Regions from separate parts of the Homo sapiens genome. Here region 2 is linked to region 1. The links come from fine-mapping of genetic effects on gene expression. A gene starts in region 1. The other region holds a variant in brackets. All regions are shown on one strand. Distances are between the middles of the regions.

What was found. PIP is the estimated chance that this variant, and not a neighbour inherited with it, causes the effect.
Region 2: its variant is fine-mapped to the expression of LINC00570 in tibial artery (GTEx, PIP 0.92).

What each region holds. Positions count from the first base shown.
Region 1 is chr2:11,392,342-11,395,252 of GRCh38, forward strand. It overlaps LINC00570 (long intergenic non-protein coding RNA 570), which reads left to right and starts at 1,640. Exons shown (of 3, transcript NR_047499.1): 1 at 1,640-1,830.
Region 2 is chr2:11,401,131-11,404,041 of GRCh38, forward strand. LINC00570 (long intergenic non-protein coding RNA 570) reads left to right here. Exons shown (of 3, transcript NR_047499.1): 3 at 895-1,947. Among named protein-coding and RNA genes, the nearest start is that of LINC00570, 8.6 kb to the left of the region's middle. The variant ACACCACCAC/A (reference allele first, on the strand shown) is at 1,496.

The DNA.
Region 1 (2,911 bases):
TGTCACCCAGGCTGGAGTGCAGTGGCACATTCTTGGCTCACTGCAGCCTCCGCCTCTGAGGTTCAAGCCATCCTCTCACCTCAGCCTCCTGAGGAGCTGGGACTATAGGCACATGCCACTATGCCCAACTAATTTTTGTATTTTTTGTAGAGACAGGGATTCACAGACTGTTGCCCAGGCTGGTCTCGAACTCCTGAGCTCAAGCCATCTGCCTGCCTCAACCTCCCAAAATGCTGGGATTACAGGCATGAGCTGCAACACCCGGCCACCACACTTTTACTTGGGGAGATCAGGATGTCAGAATTGAAAACTGCATTTAATCTACAGAGGCAGGGCGATGTGACAGTTAAGAGCGGGCACAAGGAAATCAGACCTGCCGAGTTCAGGTCCCAACTCTGTGACATGCTGCTGTGTGACTTGTACCAGTTTGATCTCCCCTAGCCTTAGTTTATTCAGAAGAAAAAGTGGGTTAATAATTAGGCCAGGCGCAGTGGCTCATGCCTGTAATCCCAGCACTTTGGGAGGCTGAGGTGGGCAGATCACGAGGTCAGGAGTTCGAGACCAGCCTGGCCAACATGGCGAAACCCTGTCTCTACCAAAAAATACAAAAATTAGCTGGGTGTGCTGGTGGGTTCCTGTAATCCCAGCTACACAGGAGGCTGAGGCAGGAGAATCACTTAAACCCGAGAGGCGGAGGCTGCAGTGAGCCAAGATCACGCCACTGCACTCCAGCCTGGGTGACAGAGCAAGACTCCATTCCAGAAAATAAATAAATAAATAAATAAACAAATTAGCCGGGCATGGTGGTGTGTGCCTGTAGTCCCAGCTACTTGGGAGGCTGAGGCAGGAGAATCACTTGAACCCAGGAGGCGGAGGTTGCAGTGAGCCAAGATCCCGCAACTGCACTTCAGCCTGGGTGACAGAGACTCTGTCTCAAAAAAAACCAAAATTGTGTCTTTCTCTTAAGGTTCTTATGGTGATTGAGATACACTGTGCAAGGCTTTTTAACACAATGCCCAGAACATGGCAACACTCAATAAATACTAGCAAATATCACCACCATTATTTCCATCATTTCACTGAAGACATTTTAACAACAGAAAAATATATATCTTGGCCAAAATGATAGTTTAAATTGCATGCATTGAGCTTTTGGAAGTGTCACTCATTGATTCTCTGTTTCTTCAGGGTGGACCTAAGAATCCCTGGATTCAGTGATCTTGGGATTCTTTCTGCTCTAAGACGCAACGCTTTTGGGGTTGTTAACAGCCTTGATTAGCAAAGGAATGTTCATGGCCCATGGCTAAAGATAAGTGATAAATCAGGTGCCCTTAGTGGCCATCCTGAACTTGGATTAGACTCCGACTCTGCACAGAGACCTTTCATGCAGGGCTGGACTATTTCAGGAAATCAGAACCACAGATATGTAATCCTTCCCTACTCTCCTCCTTGTCTCTGTTGGTGACGTCAGGCTTCAGCTACACTAGCCGTTAACTGAGGTCCGAGGGTCCTGGCCTGGGATCCGGAGCCCCTAACTGCCTGTTCTGCCTTCCTGCAAAAGCTGGTTGTTTGGGCCAGTTGGTTTTTGGTTTCTGTGCGGCCACTCCCACCCCCACCCCAGCTCCCTGACCACGGGCTGCGGAAGAGTGGGACGTTATGGAACCTTCTCAGCTTATTCAGAGAGGCTTCTTCTTCCTATTTAGTCTCCCTCTGGCTTTCCCTGCTGGGATCTGGGTGGTAGAAGCAGCAGGGGGATCAACGAACAGGCTGAGCGCCAAGAAGCCTGAAGATTCCAGAATCTAGCGGGAAAAGCATTCAGAGTCAGAATGAGTAAGCAACTTCATCTCCTGGCCTTTACTTTTCTGTAAAACAGAGGCAATTCTATCTCCCTCATGGATGTGATAAAATAATACTTTGACTAGTAATAATAATATTCATTCAGGAGTGGATCTGGGTGTTGTGGGGCCTGAAGCTTATTCAGTGTGGAGGGTCCTTTTTAAGAAAGAAGAATACAAATTTACAAACACATCAAATATAAAAGGGGATATTTACTTAGGAGAAAAAAATCACAACAAATTACAATTAAAAAGAAAAACTGGGCCAGGCACAGTGGCTCATGCCTATAATCCCAACACTTCAGGAGGTGGAGACGGGCAGATCACTTGAGTCCAGGAATTCCAGACCAGCCTGGGCAACGTGGTGAAACTCCACCTCTATAAAAAATGCAAAAATTAGCCAGGCGTGGTAGCACACGCCTGTAGTCCCAGCTACTCAGGAGGCTGAGGTGCGAGGATCACCTGAGCTTGAGAGGTTGAGGCTGCAGTGAGCTGTGATCACGCCACTGTGCTCCAGCCTGAGTAACAGAGTGAGATCCTGTCTCAAGAAAAAAGAAAAAAGAAAAACTGAACAAATACTACAAATATCACAAAATCTAGAAAAATAATGTACTACATTTTATTAATTGTCTTCTATGCTTCTAATACCTTTTTCCTACATTTTTTGGCTGCATGCATTTTAGTAGCTTCTTCCTATGGCAATGGTTTTGTGGTAGTATTTTCTGTTTCTATAAAGAGATTATAAAGTTAATTCAGTCTTTTCCTTAGCACAGTTGGTCAAAATTTGTTTTTTATTATTGATGGCTTCAACTAGGTATCAATGACAAGCAAATTCTCTGCTTGCAATTGCCATTACATATTCATGATTGGAAGCATTTCCTTCAACCTTGCCCTGCCTTGCTTCATCCCCACAAACCCATCCTTTTACAGCCAGAATGCATTTGTTTCAGTGTGACTTTGAGCACTGCACTTTCTGTCATGATGCCTGGTGAGTGGGCACCACAGGCCTCAGGAGGATTTCTAGAAACCACTCTTCCACCAGGATGGCTAGCAACAAGCTGATGAAAGTGATTTTG
Region 2 (2,911 bases), 8.8 kb after region 1:
AGGCGTGAGACACTGCACCCAGTCCCTCATGCTCTTCTTCAAGGAAGCTCTGAGAGGCAGATTCCCATGGCTGCCGCACCTGAGGAGTAGCCTGGAAGAGGGTGAAGCTCCCTTTGGCCCTGTAGACTCCTTGCCCTTAGGGTAGAAATGCAGCTAGAGAAGGACAAGAGAGGAGCTTCTGAAAGTAGAGGGTGTGCACTGCCCTAGTCCAGGCTGAGGATGTTACTGTGTAGACCCAGTTCGACTTCCCTTCGGCTAAAGCCCCAAAGAGCCGCATCACCACCCAATACAAGCAGATGTGTGGTGGAAACGAAGTCTGAGTGGGAGATGTGGGCTTCAGGAATTGTTAAAATATTATATCTTGATTTTTGCATATTTTTTAAAAACATGCTGCGCCGGGCACGGTGGCTCACGCCTGTAATCCCAGTACTTTGGGAGGCCCAGGCGGGCGGATCACGAGGTCAGGAGATCGAGACCATCCTAGCTAACACGGTGAAACCCTGTCTCTACTAAAAATACAAAAAATTAGCCGGGCGTGGTGGTGGGTGCCTGTAGTCCCAGCTACTCAGGAGGCTGAGGCAGGAGAATGGCATGAACCCGGGAGGCAGAGCTTGCAGTGAGCCGAGATTGTGCCACTCCACTCCAGCCTGGGAAACAGAGTGAGACTCTGTCTCAAAAAAAAAAAAAAAAAAAAAAAACCCAAAACAACAATAACAACAAAAAAAACCATGTTAATCTATTGCTTGAGTCCTCCCAAGGTTGGGGAAGCAGCTCTTCCAAGGGAGGCCTGAAATTTAAGCTGCATTATCTTCGTGATGATTCCATTTCTGCATTAACTATTGCTATGGTTTTCATATTGGGTAGTTCCTGTAATTTGAGATCCTTCTTTTTCAGGTGGCAGCTGAGGCTTACTACCCCAGGAAAGGGATGCCACCAGAGAAGGCAGACAACCAAGATGGCGACTCTCAATTTTTGAGCTCCTAATTTTCTCATGTCAGACATAAGAAAAAAAAATATTTTTTAAAGAAAAAGCTTTAGGTTGCAAAAATCTAGGCCTTTCAACTTTAAAATCCTATTCTTGCAAGCCTTGGAGAATAAAGCTTATGCATAAACAGTAGATTTGGAAACAGAAATATGCCTAATTACCCAGAGCCATTCTTTCAATACGCCAGTGATTGTTTAAAGATTCTATAGGCTGGAGTCAATGGCAGGAGGCGGGTGGGAAAAGAGTCAAGAGGGAGGAGAGAAGAAGCAAGAGGGTTGGGTAGATATTGTCACATGACCCTGAGAGGAGGATTCTGGGTCAAACCCCTAGGGGGTTGTGTGTAATGGAGACTCCAGATCCATTTGGGAATCTGGCTCCAAAGAAGACTTCACCTTGCCTTCTGAGTGGAGCCCTGAAGTGGCAAGACTCATAGAATTCCCCCACGGGTCCACACAAGAGAGAATGAATAGAGAAGGCTGCGTGCTGGCTGGACCAAGGCAGCCTCGGGTG[ACACCACCAC/A]CACCACCGCCGCTGCCGCCATCGCCATCACCACTGCCGCTGCCATCACCGCCACCACCACCACCATCACCACCACCATCACCACATTATGGACAATAGCCCAATGTTTCCTGAGTTCCCTAGAGGGTTGAAAGAGAATAGGACCTAGAGAGATCACATAGTTGGGACAGGCACTCATTAATTTGATCCAATGACAAGAGACCAGATGGGAAGAAGGATGCCTTGAGAGATGTCAGTGTGCACCCATGGATAGAAGCAGCTGGTGACTGGGTACTTGGGAAGCCACATGGACACACACAAAGCTCCTGGAAGACGTTTTCAAGGAGTTGGGCTGTGCTGGGATCCAGAACTGGCTGAAGAAACCATGAGCTGACATAAAATTTCTGCCACCTAGCAGAATGGAGGCTCCATTTGGAAATTAAATTATATACTTAAAAAAACTATAATTGCTTCATTTCTTTTTTTTGAGATGGAGTTTCACTCTTGTTGCCCAGGCTGTAGTGCAATGGCACCATCTCAGCTCACTGCAAACTCCGCTCCCGGGTTCAAGAGGTGATCCTGCCTCAGCCTCCCGAGTAGCTAGGATTACAGGTGTGCGGCCACCATGCCCCGCTAATTTTGTATTTTCAGTAGAGACGGGGTTTTACCATGTTGGTCAAGCTGGTCTCAAACTCCTGACCTCAAATGATCCACCCACTTTGGCCTCCCAAAGTGCCAGGATTACAGGCATGAGCCACTGCGTGAAGCCAAATGCTTCATTTCTTTTTTTCTTTTTTTTTGTTGAGAGGGAGTCTCACTCTGCCGCCCAGGCTGGAGTGCAGTGCCGCAATCTCGGCTCACTGCAAGCTCCCGCGTTCACGCCATTCTCCTGCCTCAGCCTCCCGAGTAGCTGGGACTACGGGCGCCCGCCACCACGCCTAGCTAATTTTGTTTTGTACTTTTAGTAGAGCCGGGGTTTCACCGTGTTAGCCAGGACGGTCTCGATCTCCTGACCTCGTGATCCGCCCGCCTGGGCCTCCCAAAGTGCTGGGATTACAGGCGTGAGCCACCGCGCCCGGCCTGCTTCATTCCTTATACATCTGAGTTGGCCATCTGAGATTTTGTTTCTACTACACAGCACTACGGCAAGGATTACGCGAAACCACCTAGTCCCTAGTATGGTTCCTGCCATGTAATCAGGACACAGCAGATCGCAGCTGGGTATTTTCCATTTTCCTCCGGATCTGCTCTGCACCCTTCTCCACTGGCCCTCAGCTGTGGGAAGCTGACCTCATGGACTGCAGGCAATGCGCGTAATTGCCCTATGGGAGGCACCAACAGGAAATGGGAGGGGCTGGGAGGGAAGAGCTATGAGGTATTCACTCTGTGGGTCTGGCAATGGCTGTGTTTCTCTCAGCTCCTGCCTGG